2 linked regions of the Homo sapiens genome follow. The protein of the gene in region 2 purifies or fractionates together with the protein of the main gene of each other region. This does not show direct contact. Each region holds a gene or a part of one and is shown on either strand. Other genes may lie near its edges.

Region 1 (7,143 bases), on a different chromosome or scaffold from region 2:
TTTTTTTGAGATGGAGTTTTGCTCTTGTCGTCTAGGCTGGAGCACAATGGCATGATCTCGGCTCACTGCGACCTCCGTCTCCCAGGTTCAAGCGATTCTCCTGCCTCAGCATCCCGAGTAGCTAGGCTTACAGGCGCCTGCCACCATGGCCAGCTTATTTTTGTATTTTTAGTAGAGATGGGGTTTCACCATGTTGGCCAGGCTGATCTCGAACTCCTGACCTCACGTGATCCACCCACCTCAGCCTCCCGAAGTTTTGGGATTACAGACGTGAGCCACCGCACCTGGCCCAGGAAACATTTTCTTCTGGCCAATACTCTGGCCCTTTTGACTGTAAGGAAGTATGTGAAAGGGGGCAGTTTGCATGTTTGCGGAGTGGGCATATGTGTGGGAGTTTATTGAGAAAGATGGGGAAATGGTAAGATTTGTCTCCTGGGGGTTAGCACCCCTCCCGCTTATGGGCTTGGTGTGGTTTAAAGAAAGTGAGATGCAGAAATGCTGATCAAGGTGGCTCTGGGTCTCATCCTGTGAGCCCTGAATGCCCCATGCAGGAAGGGCACCATCTCAGGAGTCAGCTGGGCTTGGTGTCCCACACTGCCCCATGGACCTTGGGTCACTCCAGAGCTTTCCTGAGCCTCAATTTCCTTATCTGTAGAATGGGGATAATGATACCTTCCCCTCAGAGTTGTGAGTTTTACATAAGAAGAGGATATAAAGATAAAGTGGCCCAGGTTGGGCATTCAACAAATGTTAGTTGCTTCCCCACTTTTCCTTTCCCACATCAAGTTTACCTATGCATTGCATGCAAGCATCTCTTGAGGACATGCTATAATATGAGGTGCTATCCTGGCTGGGATGAGGGGAAGAAGCTCAGTAAGGAGCTTGATTCTAATCCTGGGTCTGTATGCCGAATATAGCAGTGAAGTTAGATCCTACAGTATAAGACAGAAGGAGGCAAGTGCCTTAGAATCCAGATGGAGTTCTATGGGACCTTAGAGGATAGAGACTCGATTTGTAACCAGGGCTGGGACAGGTGGGAGATGAGGTCAGATGGGGTGCCCAAGGAGAATGCATTAAACCTGGGTCTTGCAGGATGGTGGGGCTTAGATTTGGGAGGCGAAGGGCAGTTCAGCAGAAATGGTATAAGGGAGATAGGAGTGGCAGGGAGGGAAGGCTGTGTGGAGGACAGCGAGCTGTCCAGCCTGGCTTGGCCAGAGGGCACAGGGAGGAGAACCCTGGGAGACAGACTTGAGAACGTTTAGTTGGAATCATACCACAGCAAAACTCAAATTCCAGGCTGAAGCATTTGAACTTTATGCCAAAGGCACTGGGGAGCTATCGGAGCTTTTTGAGCAGGAGAGTGTGATGTGCTGTGCTTTAGGCAGGCTGATCTTGGCGGTGCTACATGGAACAGACTAGACAGGGTGGAGTGGAAGGAGGTGACTCCATGACCTAGATGAGGGATGGGCAGGTTGAATCCTCACAGCAGCAGTGAGAAAGGAGAGAAAGGATTGGGCAGGAGAGGCACTTTGTGGATCGTTGTAAACATTTCTGTTTATTTTTCATTATAAAGAATTTAAGCGGCTGGGCGCAGTGTCTCACTCCTGTAATCCTAGCATTTTGGGAGGCTGAGGCAGGTGGATTGCTTGAGCTCAGGAGGTTGAGACCAGCCTGGCCAACATGGCAAAACCCCGTCTCTACTAAAAATACAAAAAATTAGCTGGGTGTGGTGGCACGCACCTGTAGTCCCAGCTAATTGGGAGGCCAGCTGAGGCAGGAGAATCACTTGAACCTGGGAGGTGGAGGGTGCAGCGAGCCGAGATTGCACCACTGCACTCCAGCCTGGGTGACAGGGCGAGACTCCGTCTCAAAAAAAAAGAAAAGAATTTAAGCATCCACAAAAGTAGAAACAGAAACATTTAATGAACCTCTACGTGCCCGTTCCCCAGGTTCAACAATGGTTAATTTTTTATTTTTAAGAGACAGGGTCTTTCACTGGAGTGCAGTGGCACCATTACGGCTCACTGCAGCCTCAAACTCCTGGGCTCAAGTGATCCTCCCCACTCAGCCTCCCTAGTAGCTGGGACTACAGGCCCAGCTACCATCTGCCACCATGTCCAGCTACTTTTTAAAAACTTTTTGTAGCGACGAGATCTTGCTTTTTTGCCCAGGCCGGTCTCAAACTCTTGGGCTCAAACAATCTGCCCACCTTGTCCTCCCAAAGTGCTGGGATTACAGGTGTGAACCACCATGCCCAGCCTAAGAATGGTTAATTCATGGCCAATTTTGTTTAATCTCTACTCCATCCACTTTTCTCTTCCATCATATTTTGAAGTGAGTCTAAGATATTGTGTCATTTTATGGCTATTGCAGCGTGCAGGAAGAGGTATGACATTTTGGAAGATGAGTTGATGGGCCGTGCCACATGGGTATTGTGTCTCTGTGTGCCTGTACATACTCTCTTATGTGGAATTGCAATGGCTGATTTGACTCTTCCAAGTTGGGGGTCTTTTAAGGGCAAAGACCACCCTCCAGTGGCCAGGCTGTCTTCTCCTCCCCATGGAGTGCTTGGTATATGGTGCGACCGTCAGTGTGAACAACCTAGTTCCACTGGAAGAAAGAGGCCTGTTATTGGACCCTTTGGGCTATGGCCATCGAGACCACGGGTAGCTTTTCTGCTCAGGTCACGCTCTGATATGTTGTCAAATAAAACACAGGACACTCAGCTGGGTTTCAGTTTCAGATCAACAACAAATATGCCTGTAACATAAGTATGTCCCACACATTGCCCGGGGCATATTTATAGTAATAAATGACGTTATTTTTCTGAAATTCAAATTTAATCAGGCTTTTTTTTTTTTTTTTGAGATGGAGTTTTGCTCTGTTGCCCAGGCTGGAGTGCAGTGGCGTGATCTTGGCTCACTGCAAGCTCGGCCTCTCGGGTTCACGCCATTCTCCTGCCTCAGACTCCCGAGTAGCTGGGACTACAGGCGCCTGCCACCACGCCCAGCTAATTTTTTGTATTTTTAGTAGAGACGGGGTTTCACCGTATTAGCCAGGATGGTCTCGATCTCCAGACGTTGTGATCTGCCCGCCTCGGCCTCCCAAAGTGCTGGGATTATAGGCGTGAGCCACAGCGCCCAGCCCAGGCATCTTGTTTCTATCTATTTATTTATTTTGTTTTGTTTTTGGCTAAATCTAGTCAATCCTATCCTCTGGTCTTTTCACAGAAATCCTGCAGATCAAAGCCTTTGACCTAGGGCAGTGCTTTTCAAAGGGTGGTCCCAGGACAGCAGCATCAGCAACTCCTAGCTCAAAACAAGATCTCAGGCCAGGCGCGGTGGCTCATGCCTATAATCCAGCACTTTGGGAGGCCCACACGAGTGGATCATTTGAGGTCAGGGGTTCGAGGCCAGCCTGGGCAACGTGGTGAAACCCCGTCCCTACTAAAAAAAAAAAAAAAAAAAAAAAAAAACAAAAATTAGCGGGGCTTGGCAGCATGCACCTGTGATCCCAGCTACTCGGGAGGCTGAAGCAGGAGAATCGCTTGAACATAGGAGGCAGAGGCTGCAATCACCCGAGATTGGGCCACGGCACTCCAGCCTGGGCGAAAGAGCGAGACTCCATCTCAAAAAAACAAAAGCAAAAACAAAAAAATCCCAAAATGTCAGCCCCACCCAGAATGACGGAACCAGAGCCTCTGGGGGTGCTGGCATTTTGTGTTTGACCCCCTCCAGTGATTCTTTTGAGGGTCATTGACTGGAGAATGATGCCGATGCCATCACATTACCCGCCCCCAGCCTCTCCCGCAACACACACACAGCACATCCTGCTCTGCTGCGCACCCAGTGGCATGGACCTGGCTGCCAAAGGTGTAGAAGCATAAGTAACATCAGGGGTGTTACAAAGGGCTCTTTCCTTGGGTGTTTGTAGCTTCCCTTAGGGCTGCAGTCACTCGCAGACTGCTGGGCTCTTGGCCTCAGGGCTCTGTTCTGCCCGCCCAGATCTGTTCCTGAGCCTGCAGACGGCTGTGAACCAGAGAATCTATTCTTCAGGCGGGAGTTGCCAGTTGCGGCCAAGGGGGCGGGGCCCGGAGGCGGGAGGGCCACGTGTGCGGGAGGGAAGCAGGAAGTGACTGCGGGAGTGGAGCCGGCGAGAGAGTGGCAGCGGGGGCTGATGGAAGTGCAGTGGGGGCTGGAGAGGGCACCCTAGTGAGTTGGCTTTTCTCTCCTTCGGTGCCTTTGGTTGGGCTCGAGGCCCGGGGTCGGAGGCCATCAGGACAAGAGTGTGGGACTTGGAAGGGCAGCCACCTGGAGCTTGGAAGGGGGTACGCCTGGAGAGAGGAGGGGTTTGGAGGAGAAATTGGAGGCTTTGGCAGGTGTCGGGGCGGGGTGGGAGGGTGAGGGGCGGTGGGAAGGAAGTCCCCGGACCCCGGCTATGTCCCTCTCCAGGGTGATCTGGAAGGCAATGACATGCCTTCCTTTTACAGTCCTAACCCAAATCCTCTTCGTTCGTCCCTTCCTAGGCGGTGTGTGGGGGTACCCGGGATTCCTGGGAGCAGAGGCAGCTACAAATCCAGCTGCTCCCAGGCCCCTCCCACTTGCTCTGGCTGTTAGCTGGACCTCTGGAACTTGACTGGGAATCTGGTTAACTTGCAGCAGGTCTGGGTGGGGCGTGACAGTGTGCATTTCTAACTAATTCCCAGGTTGGGTGGTCCGCGGACCACGCTTTGAGTAGCGAGGCATTAGAGAACTTTTCCACAGTCCTCTCCGCCCAGACCTGAATCCTTCTGCTGGATTCCCCCTCGTGGAGTTAGGGCATGTGTGTGCAGCTCCACTAAGGCCCAGCAGCCCTAGTGCTGTTTCCACTTCTGCAACTTCACCAGCCTCTTGAACTGACTCTTGGAAGCGGAACAACAGGTTTAAAAGGGGGAGAAAGGAAATAAAGAAAACAAACCTGTATCAATCAGCCGGGAATGCCCATGTGCTGCTGTGGCAGGTGTGTACAAGTCTACAGGCTGTTGGCATGTTAAAAGTTGGAACGGTCAGAGAATGATTCTCCCTGCTGCTAACGAATCAGGGTTGATGGAATTAATATCCCCATCGTGAGGAATTCTGAGCCCCATTGTGTAAGCTGTGATGGAGATGCTGTGTCCTAAAGTTGTTACTGGTCTGCCGGTTAGAGAAAACTTCTTGTTCTCTTGGGACTCTGCCAGAAACTTTTTCTTCTCTTGAGACTCTGCAGAAAACTTTCTGTTCTTTTGGGACTCTTCTTTGCTCTTGCCAATCCCACATGGGGCAGGAGAACTCATTTTCTAAGCTCTTGGTATTGTAGAAGTTTTACCAGTTTTATTTATTTATTTATTTTTATTTTTTTTTGAGACAGAGCCTTGCTCTGTCACCCGGACTGGAGTGCAGTGGCGCGATCTCGGCTCACTGCAACCTCCGCCTCCCGGGTTCAAGCGATTACTCCTGCCTCAGCCTCCCGAGTAGCTGGGACTACAGGCACTGGGACTACAGGCACACACCACGACGCCCAAGTAATTTTTGTGTTTTTAGTAGAGATGGGGTTTCACCGTGTTGGCCAGGCTGGTCTCGAACTCCTGACCTCAGGTGATCTGCCCGTCTTGGCCTCCCAAGGTGCTGGGATTACAGGCATGAGCCACTGCGCCTGGCCAAGTTTTACCAGTTTTAATCTTTTGCTTTCCACAGTTTAATGTGCATAAGAATCCCCCATGGAATTCCACAAAATGCAGACCCTGATTCAGAAAGTCTGGGGTGAGACCTGAGTTTCTGCATTCCTAACTAGCTCCCAAGCCGGACCAGTGCTGCTGGTTCTCTGACCACCCTTGTAGCGAGGATTTAAAACAGCAAATAGAGAAGAAACTTCTCCGAGGGGCACTGGGCTTGCATTGCCCGTGATCAATGCTGCTCCTGTTGGGATGGAAAGGATGGTGGCCTCGGTCTTCCCTCTGTGTCCCTTTTTCTTACTCAGGAGGGTGCTCAGATATACATGGGGACAGGCTTAGACGGGTGTTTCCCTATCCCACTAACCACCAGGAACACCCACGAGCTCCCTCTGTTCTGTTCACCAGCCCACAAGATCCACATTGACTTTGGCCTGTTGGCAAATGTAAATTGTTTGCTCTCTTCTGTAGCTGTCAAGAGGCACATTCAAATACAGGAAAGAAAGGTGTTTTTGTTATGCCCTGTCTTGGATGATAAGTACTAAGAGGATGATCCCTTTGTGCTGTTCTTTGTAAATGCTGTTTGAAATTTTGTCCACAGCAACTCGGAATAGATGATTGGTGTAATGGTCCAGATGGCTTGGTTTAAAAACAAAGACCAACCCCTCTTTTTAGGGTGGCTTAGCAAGATGACGGATGTAAAGGGTAGTAGTTTTTTGAAAATGATTTTTTTTTTCTTTAATTGGCGTGGTCACAGTTTTCACAGTTGGTGCAGTTCGTTTAGAGTGCGGGAACTAGAGTCTGATTCCATAGATGCTATTTATCTCAGAGTTTCTGGCACAGGGGCTGAGCCAGGGCTCACCTGGGCTCACCTGGACCTATACCCTTCCTAGGTTTGAGCCTGGGTGTGTTGCTGAGCCGCTTGGCATAAGGGCTGCGTCCACACTCTGCCATGGTTTCCTTCCAGGGTCAATCGAGGCAGCGTCTTCAGCTCTTGATCTGCAGGCTCAGGGCTGCTGGCTCCTCACAGAGCACCGGGAACTGGCAGGGCTGAGCCCAGTGTGGTTGTGTCCAGCCAGCCCTCTGGGTGCTGGCAGACCATCAGGGAGATGAATGAGGCTTTGATATGAGGCCCTGAGCCCAGTGTTTGTGTACCAGAACACAGGGCTTTTCAACAAATGGGTTTCTCTGCCTTGTAACTTTCCACAGGGAGAGATCTGATTGTCATCTCAGATCCAGAATTTTAAGCATGTTAAAGTCTGGAGGAGGTTCTCTGGACTGAAATGAGAGGGAGTGGTACTTCCCTTCCTTTCCTTGGTGGGCGGTGGTGTAACTTCAGCTTCAGCAGCAGGGTGCTGAGTTGACCAGGGGACATTCCATTCCTGGGTCCTTTTGCTTGTCCTTGCTGACTGTCCTGTGCAGGTAAGCTGGCCCTTTTCCATCCAGCACATATTTTT
Region 2 (7,020 bases):
TGCAGAACCTGGTCTCAGCCATCAGGAATGCAGCAGGACCATGTTGGCTTGGTGTGCCACGGCACCAAGAGAGAGTGGGGAAGTGCACAGGATGACACCAAGATGGGCCCTTGGTGGGACCCAGGGTGCAAGGACTCACCTTCCCGCCGATCATTGCGCAGGCACTTGACCTTGGGGATCCTGGTCAGGAGTAGACAGTCTTCCGCTGAGGATGCAAAGAGGAAGGCAAGCTCATTTAGACATGGGCATCAGGCCACTAGTGGTTTGGCTGCCATGAAAATTGCCCCATACTAAGCCCAGGAAAGGGTTGGGGATGGGGATTGGGAAGAGGTATGGTCATCACTACTGGCCGAAGGGTTGCCCTGCCCCACTCTCAGGCCAGACTGAGGAGTGCCTGTACCTATGGCAGTACTCCACTCCACCTCAGGGAGCACTAGAAAGCACGCTTGGGGGTGGCTACCAGCCCAGCTATCATCTGCATTTGGCAGTTGTAATAATGAAGGATGCTGTTGATTTTCTTTACTTTTTAAAAACAATATCATCTCACTAGAGTCCCATCCAAAGCAACACCCACCCTTCTTTCCCCTCCTTTGACACCAGGGAACAGGACCAGGGAGGGGTCCTAGAAAAGACAGGATCCCTGCTGGGGGCAGAAAGGTGTCTGCGATGGTCAGGACAACCTCAGGGTGCTTGCCTTGGTGTTCTGGGGAAACAGGGACGAGGGCGGAATGGAGGGCTGCAAAAAGGAAGGTGACTACTCACGATCTGAGCTGAAGTCATCCACTAAAATGATCTCCTGGATCAAGTTGGCAGGAGTTCGGTTCAGGACACTACAGTAGCAGTGGAAACAGAGAAAGAGCCTGGATTTAGGAACCACCTCCCATTTTTACCACTCCCGGGGCCGTGGGACTCCCCAGCCGCCCAGCTCCAGGGCCAGCATGCTGGGCGCTCCTACCTGAATCCTATTCTTGTCTAAGTTCATTGAGGAAATGGGGAGATGGGAGTTCAACTTGACCACAAGCCCAGGCTTAGCAGGAAGAATCCACCTCCAATCCACCTCTCTCTGACACTGACAGACACTGCTGGGCTTCCATCACCCTCCTGAGGCCTCCTGTCTAGCCCGGCCTCCCTCAGCTCCTGACACCTGCATTTCTGCCCTTGTCCTGGACATCTGACCTGGTGTTTGACTGTCGCATTCCTCTAACAGTTTGACTTCTGGGGTCTTCCTGGCCCTGATTCACCAGTCTCAGCCTCTCAGAAGTACAGGACTCAGCCTCCAGCACCTGCTGGGCTTCAAGCTGTCTGGCCACAGCGCCCAATCCCAATGTCCTCCCCTGCCAGCACCACTGAGATGAGAGTCCCATGGCTGGACTTACCTCTTCACTGTGCGCAGCAGGGTGGAACGGGCCTCATTGTGGAAGGTGATGATGACGCTGGTGGCTGGCAGGTCCGAGGAGTAGGACACAGATGGGCAGCTGAGAAGGGAGCACAGAGGTCAGAGCCAGCCATGAGGGCATCCTCAGGGCAGGTCAATGTTTTTCTTTGTCCAGTCTTGTGCCTGAGAATACTTCTGCCAGGCAGAGAAGGCACACCAACAGCCAGGCCAGAGGCCCCGCGCCTCCACCCCCATGCTGCATCCCACACTGGCCCAGAACCCCGATGCCACCCATCCTGGGGTCCTGGGAGGGAAGCAGCAGGTTGGGAGACCTTCCAAGGCCTGGGGGCTCTTTACCAGAGATCTCAGAGCCCCCAGAGGGGGCTCCCTAGTATATACAGATACTGCACCAGGCCCCAGGATACAGCCCTGACCACACTCTGTCGTATGGTGGGGGGTATGTGCGAGAGGGAAAACTACCTCTGTTTGTCCTGATACCCTAGAGTTTCTTCCTTCTCTCTTCCCAGCTCAGGACATTTGGTAGAATCTGCAGAGGAATCACCCCTACCCTGGCTGCCAGGGAATTCCTCCCTGTCACTGCCCAACACTGACAGCCCTGCTGCAGACAACAAGCTGGGGAGCAGTCTCACTCCTCCCAGGGTACTGGGTCCCCTGGAGGAAACAAGCCTCTGTTAAGACACCAAAGGCCTATCCCGTCACTTCCTCCCTCCCCAGCCATCCATAGACACCACATTTTCTGGCCTACTGGCTCCCTCTCCTCTAGAAAGGGAGTGAAAACAATTCATTCCTGCCAGACTTCATCCCTGTTGTTTCTGCGTATGCATTTATTTGAGCTCCTGGGGTGCTGGAAGGTGGCCTCCGTTGCTGGTTTTCATAGCAATCTTCTTTATTACAATTGCTCTCTGACTATTCCACCAGTGCCCGTTTTTTCATTGTGGCATTCATTCTACTGACAGCAGCTTACAGCCCGAATTCCCAGGCCTGTTTCCTGCCCTGCAGAGCAGACCAGGTCAGACAGGCAGGAGTCCCACTAGCCTGGGACCCCCCTGGGGGAAATCTTGAGAGGCTGTGCAATAATTCTCCTTGAGAGGGGGTGTAGGGTAGTGGTGGCGGAGGGAAATTTGCCTTCTACCCCTTGAGAAACCATGCTGTTCAAGGGCCTATGAATTGTGGGGGAGGGAGTGAGCTTGGCCGGCTGAGCTGGGGTGTGCTGGGAGCAGCAAATACCTCCTAAGTGTGCACCCTCCCAGTGCTGACCTCCAGGGCCCCAGTCCTCTGTCCTGATCCCCCAACCATCCGGTGCCCAGAAAGGAGGGAATCGGGACAGTGACGTCTCCCTGAAGGGGGCAAACCCACCCACACCCCATCTGAAGGGTGAACTTGACCTCCCCACCGGCTCCCTCCAGCCCTTTCGGCATGCATGCCTCTGGGATTGATGTTACTTAGCATGGGGGTTTATCTGGCTCCCAGGAGCCAGGAGCCTCTAAAGGGGTTTGTCCCAGCCCTGAGTTTTGAGTTTGGAGCTGATGGGGTTTTCTCTGTGATCCTCCTCGGCCTGTCTTATGTGGTTTATGTCCCTTTGCTCCCCTGGAGCGGGCTCCCTAGATTGAGGCTGGACCAGAAATGAACCTGACAATTTGGAGTCCAGCGGACACTACAGCCTGCAGGGCTGCAAGGAAGAGCAGCTTCTACCAGCAAACTGGCCCCACCATGGCAGGAGGCCTGCCCACTAAAGCCAGCACGTCCTTTGCTTCCCTACACGTGTGCATGCGTGCGCGCGTGCGCGCGCACACACACACACACACACACACACACACACACACACACACACACACACACACACACCCCGTGAGCCACCTCAGCTTTCTTTTTTCTTTTTTGAGACGGAGCCTTACTCTGGCACCCAGGCTGGAGTACGGTACTGCGATCTTGGCTCACTGCAACCTCTGCCTCCCAGGTTCAAGAGATTCTCCTGCCTTAGCCTCCCGAGTAGCTGAGATTACAGGTGCCCACCACCACACCCAGCTAATTTTTGTATTTTAGTAGAGACAGGGTTTCACCATGATAGGCAGGCTGGTCTTGAACTCCTGACCTCAAATGATCCACCCACCTCAGCCTCCCAAAGTGCTGGGATTACAGGTGTGAGCCACCGTGCCTGGCCCACCTCAGCTTTCTGACAGGGCCCAGCAGCAGCATGTGGCACCTCATCAACCCACCACTACCCTGGATTTAAAGCGTCTCATTTAAAAATGTACATAGCCCCCAGGGCAATTCCCCCTTTAAGTTTCTCAGTGAGCACCTGAGGCGGTTCAGAGTCAGGTAAGCTGGGGGGTGAACAGAGATTATCCAGGGCAAGCCCTCAATTCACAGATTGGGGCCAACAGATCCTCTAGACCCTGGGACTAGGTCAGCCATGGCTAGGGCTGCCCATGAAAGGTCTCTAAGTGGAGCTATGTGGATGTAACCTCTTCTGCAGCACAGGCAGACAGGAGGGGATGCTGCCCAGGACTGGGTGAGAAAGAACTTCTGAGGCCCAGAAACAGCCAGCAGGCCTGGTGGTGTCCTTGCCGCGAAGCAGGAGTACTGCCTTACTTGGCTGCATGAGTGGTTTCTGGAGGCTGACAGTGCTGGCGTTACAGGACAGCAAGGCCAAGGTCTGGGGCTCCCCCAGCCCTGTGTTCATCTCACCTTGCACAGGCCACCAAGCACCCTGGACTTCAGGCATGCATCTGTGAGTGACAAGGAAGGTGCTAGAACCAGGCCCTCTCGCACCCTCACCTCACCTATACCCTTTGTGCTGTGGAGTAGCTGCTTCAGAAGTAAAAGCAACCTTGATCCAAGTCATTGTTGCTACCCTCAAGCCAGGACCAGACGGAGGCCCAGCCTAGCTTTGAGCACACAGCTGCAGGCACAGCCGTGAGTCAGCTCCAACAGCGCCCTGGCCATTCTGTGAGATGTCTGCACAGAGCACAGAAGAGGGGCCCAACCTAGCCCGGGTTGGGAAGGAGCCTTCCATGGAGGAGAGGACAGTGAGCCAAGTGTCCTCGAAGTGAGCCAAGTAGCTCAAAGGGTAGGTGGGGCGGAGGAGGTGCGTTTAGGCAGAGGAAACAGCATGTGTGAAAGCAAGGAAGGAAGGAGGGAGGAATCTGGGACTGCAGGACCATCAAGTGCTGGGGGAAAGGTGGGTAAGGCCAGGTCATGGGGAGCGGGGGGTGGTGCTTCAGCATCAGGAACTCAGACTGTTCGTGCAGGTGACGGCAGGAAGAGGAAAGACTGGAGATGGTGACTTTCACCCTCTAGACAGAACACACAAGGGCATAGACCCAGAGAGGGGCTAATGCCTTGCTTAAGGCCGGTCACGCACACTGAGCTGGGATGAGAGTGGAGGCTTCCTTGGTCCTGGTCTAAGGCCTCTCCCACCTCACCATACTGAGAGAACTAAGAACAAGACTAGGAAGCATTTCTGGGAGTTGCTGAGGAGGTGGAGCTGTGGTGCAGGAAAGGGAGGTCAATGGGGTGGGCCACAGCACCCCACTGTTTGCAATGTGCAGGGCTGTGACTCTCTCCACTTTAGGCACCACCAGTAAGGCCCCAAGAGCGCCTGGCTCACCCACTGCCACGGACCTCCTTTGGTCCCCTCCCAGGTCACTTTTGCTGGGGCGCCAGACTGAAGTGCCTTGGGGCCTCCTTGGCCCCAGCGGAGCGGTTTCCTTGGTCTTGGCAGGGCCTCAGTAGGCCAGGTAAACCAGCAACAGAGGGTGAGGGTTTTTGAATGTCTAAATCACTGGACACAGTCTGAGGAAATCATCCTCATTTCTTAGATACACGTAAAAGAAGACAAACTAAACAATGTTGGCTTTCTCTCAGTCTTTCTTCCTCCACTGACACGATGGAGGCCGTACCTGTAATGGCGGGTGTCCCGGATGGGCCGGTCTGGGCTCAGCTTGTCACTCTCCAGCTGGTTGAAGGCGTGCTGTCTGTAGGGGTCCTCTCCAGCCTTCAGCTGCTTGGCCGACAGGTAGGCCTTCTCATCAAAGCCTTTCGAGGGAGTTCCTGTCACCTGAGATGAAGGTCAGCATCAGAGAGGACCACAGGCAGGAGGACCCCACTGCTTGGCGAGTGCTCAGCACACACCAGGCGGGAGCCAGCCACGTGGCCTCATTTGTGCCTTACGCCAACTCTATGAGGAGGAGACCATTATCTCCCCCACTGTACAGAAGAGAAAACTGAGGCTCAAGAGGGTTTCTTTTTTTTTCTTTTTTTCTTTTTTTTTTCTTTTTTTTGACACAGGGTCTTATTCTGTCACCCAGGCTGGAGTGCAGATCTTGGCTCACTGCAACCTCTGCCTCCCAGGTTGAAGCGATTCTCCTGTCTCAGCCTCCCAAGTAGCTGAGATTACAGGTGCGCACCACCACGCCTAGCTAATTTTCATAGTTTTGGTAGAGGTGGAGTTTCGTGGTGTTGGCTAGGCTGGCCTTGAACTCCTGACCTCAAGTGATCCACCCACCTCAGCCTCCCAAAGTGCTGGGATTACAGGCATGCGCCACCGCGCCCGGCCATCAAGAGGCTTTTTAAAAAGCATCCAGGGTCAGAGCTATTAAGTCACAAGGTCTGGATTTAAACTGGTCATTCCGACTCCAAAGCCCATGCTCTTAACCAATGTTCTTTGCGGGATATTGGGGGGGTGAGTCCTGGAGTGCACCAGACCTCTAAGGCAAGGTGTCCTGAGGGGACTACAAACCAGAATGGATGCTGCCAAGCGCCTGCAGATTGACAGTCTCCTAGGCAGAAACTTGGGCCTAGCCCTGGCCTAGGCATTATATGAGGCACCCGATCAGTAAAACACCAGGGCTTGGACAATCTGCTGCATAAAGAACTACCTGTAAGGACAGCAAACCCCTGCAGGCTGATGCCAGAGCTACCAGAACTCAAGTGCTCAGACAGTGATGCATCTTCTCTGGGACTTTTGCTTGCTCCTGAAATGGCCCCTGTAAGATCCACTGGTCCCCAGGCACTAAGTGCTGGGCAGTGATGGATGGCAGATGCCATTGCCCATCCCGTTCCTTCATGGCCACACCCTACCCTGTGCTCCCAGAGTCTCCAGCAACAGACACTGGGGAAGGACACATCTGAAATTAACAGATGGATGCAAGCACCCTGACATCTCATTACTTGAACCAAACTGCTGGCTGGATGTTCTCCAGAGTGCCATGAAATATCATCAACTGTGGGTACATCCCAACTCCAACTTTCCGCCCAACCATCAGCCCTGGGCTGAAGCTGGGGCCCCAGAGGAAGCAGAAAGGAGGGTGAGAATTGCCCACTCACAAAACTCTTGCATGAGGATGCTATCACAGGCCTAGTCCTAGAGGGATGGTCCCAGCAAGGCAGCTAGACCTGTGGGGAGTGGATCGCTGTGTGGAATGACACTGGGACTGTCACCAGCAGCTCAGGGCCTCTATGTTCCCCTGAGAGCCTAGCCCCCGACCTCACTGGACAGGCATGCCCAGGGTCCGGGGAGCTCTGATCTCCTGAACTGCTGCCACTCTGTAGCGATACTACCTTCTAGGGTTGCCTCCTGTCCTAGGAGCCAGTTGGAGGTTCCCTGAGGGCAGAACAGTGAG

What was found. The genes of interacting proteins can lie anywhere in the genome.
Region 1: the proteins of GALNT16 (region 2) and SLC39A11 purify together in Homo sapiens (co-immunoprecipitation; 4 studies listed by BioGRID and IntAct, with this or other methods). This does not show direct contact.

What each region holds. Positions count from the first base shown.
Region 1 is NC_000017.11:73,089,679-73,096,821, reverse strand, and holds the start of SLC39A11 (zinc transporter ZIP11), read left to right. Parts: upstream 1-4,133; 5' UTR 4,134-4,211; exon of another isoform or gene 4,212-4,327; intron 4,328-4,705; exon of another isoform or gene 4,706-4,998; intron 4,999-6,971; exon of another isoform or gene 6,972-7,108; intron 7,109-7,143. UniProt on the Homo sapiens protein: Zinc importer that regulates cytosolic zinc concentrations either via zinc influx from the extracellular compartment or efflux from intracellular organelles such as Golgi apparatus. May transport copper ions as well.
Region 2 is NC_000014.9:69,319,147-69,326,166, reverse strand, and holds part of GALNT16 (polypeptide N-acetylgalactosaminyltransferase 16), read right to left. Parts: intron 5,457-7,020; coding exon 5,299-5,456; intron 1,476-5,298; coding exon 1,377-1,475; intron 831-1,376; coding exon 763-830; intron 206-762; coding exon 140-205; intron 1-139. UniProt on the Homo sapiens protein: Catalyzes the initial reaction in O-linked oligosaccharide biosynthesis, the transfer of an N-acetyl-D-galactosamine residue to a serine or threonine residue on the protein receptor.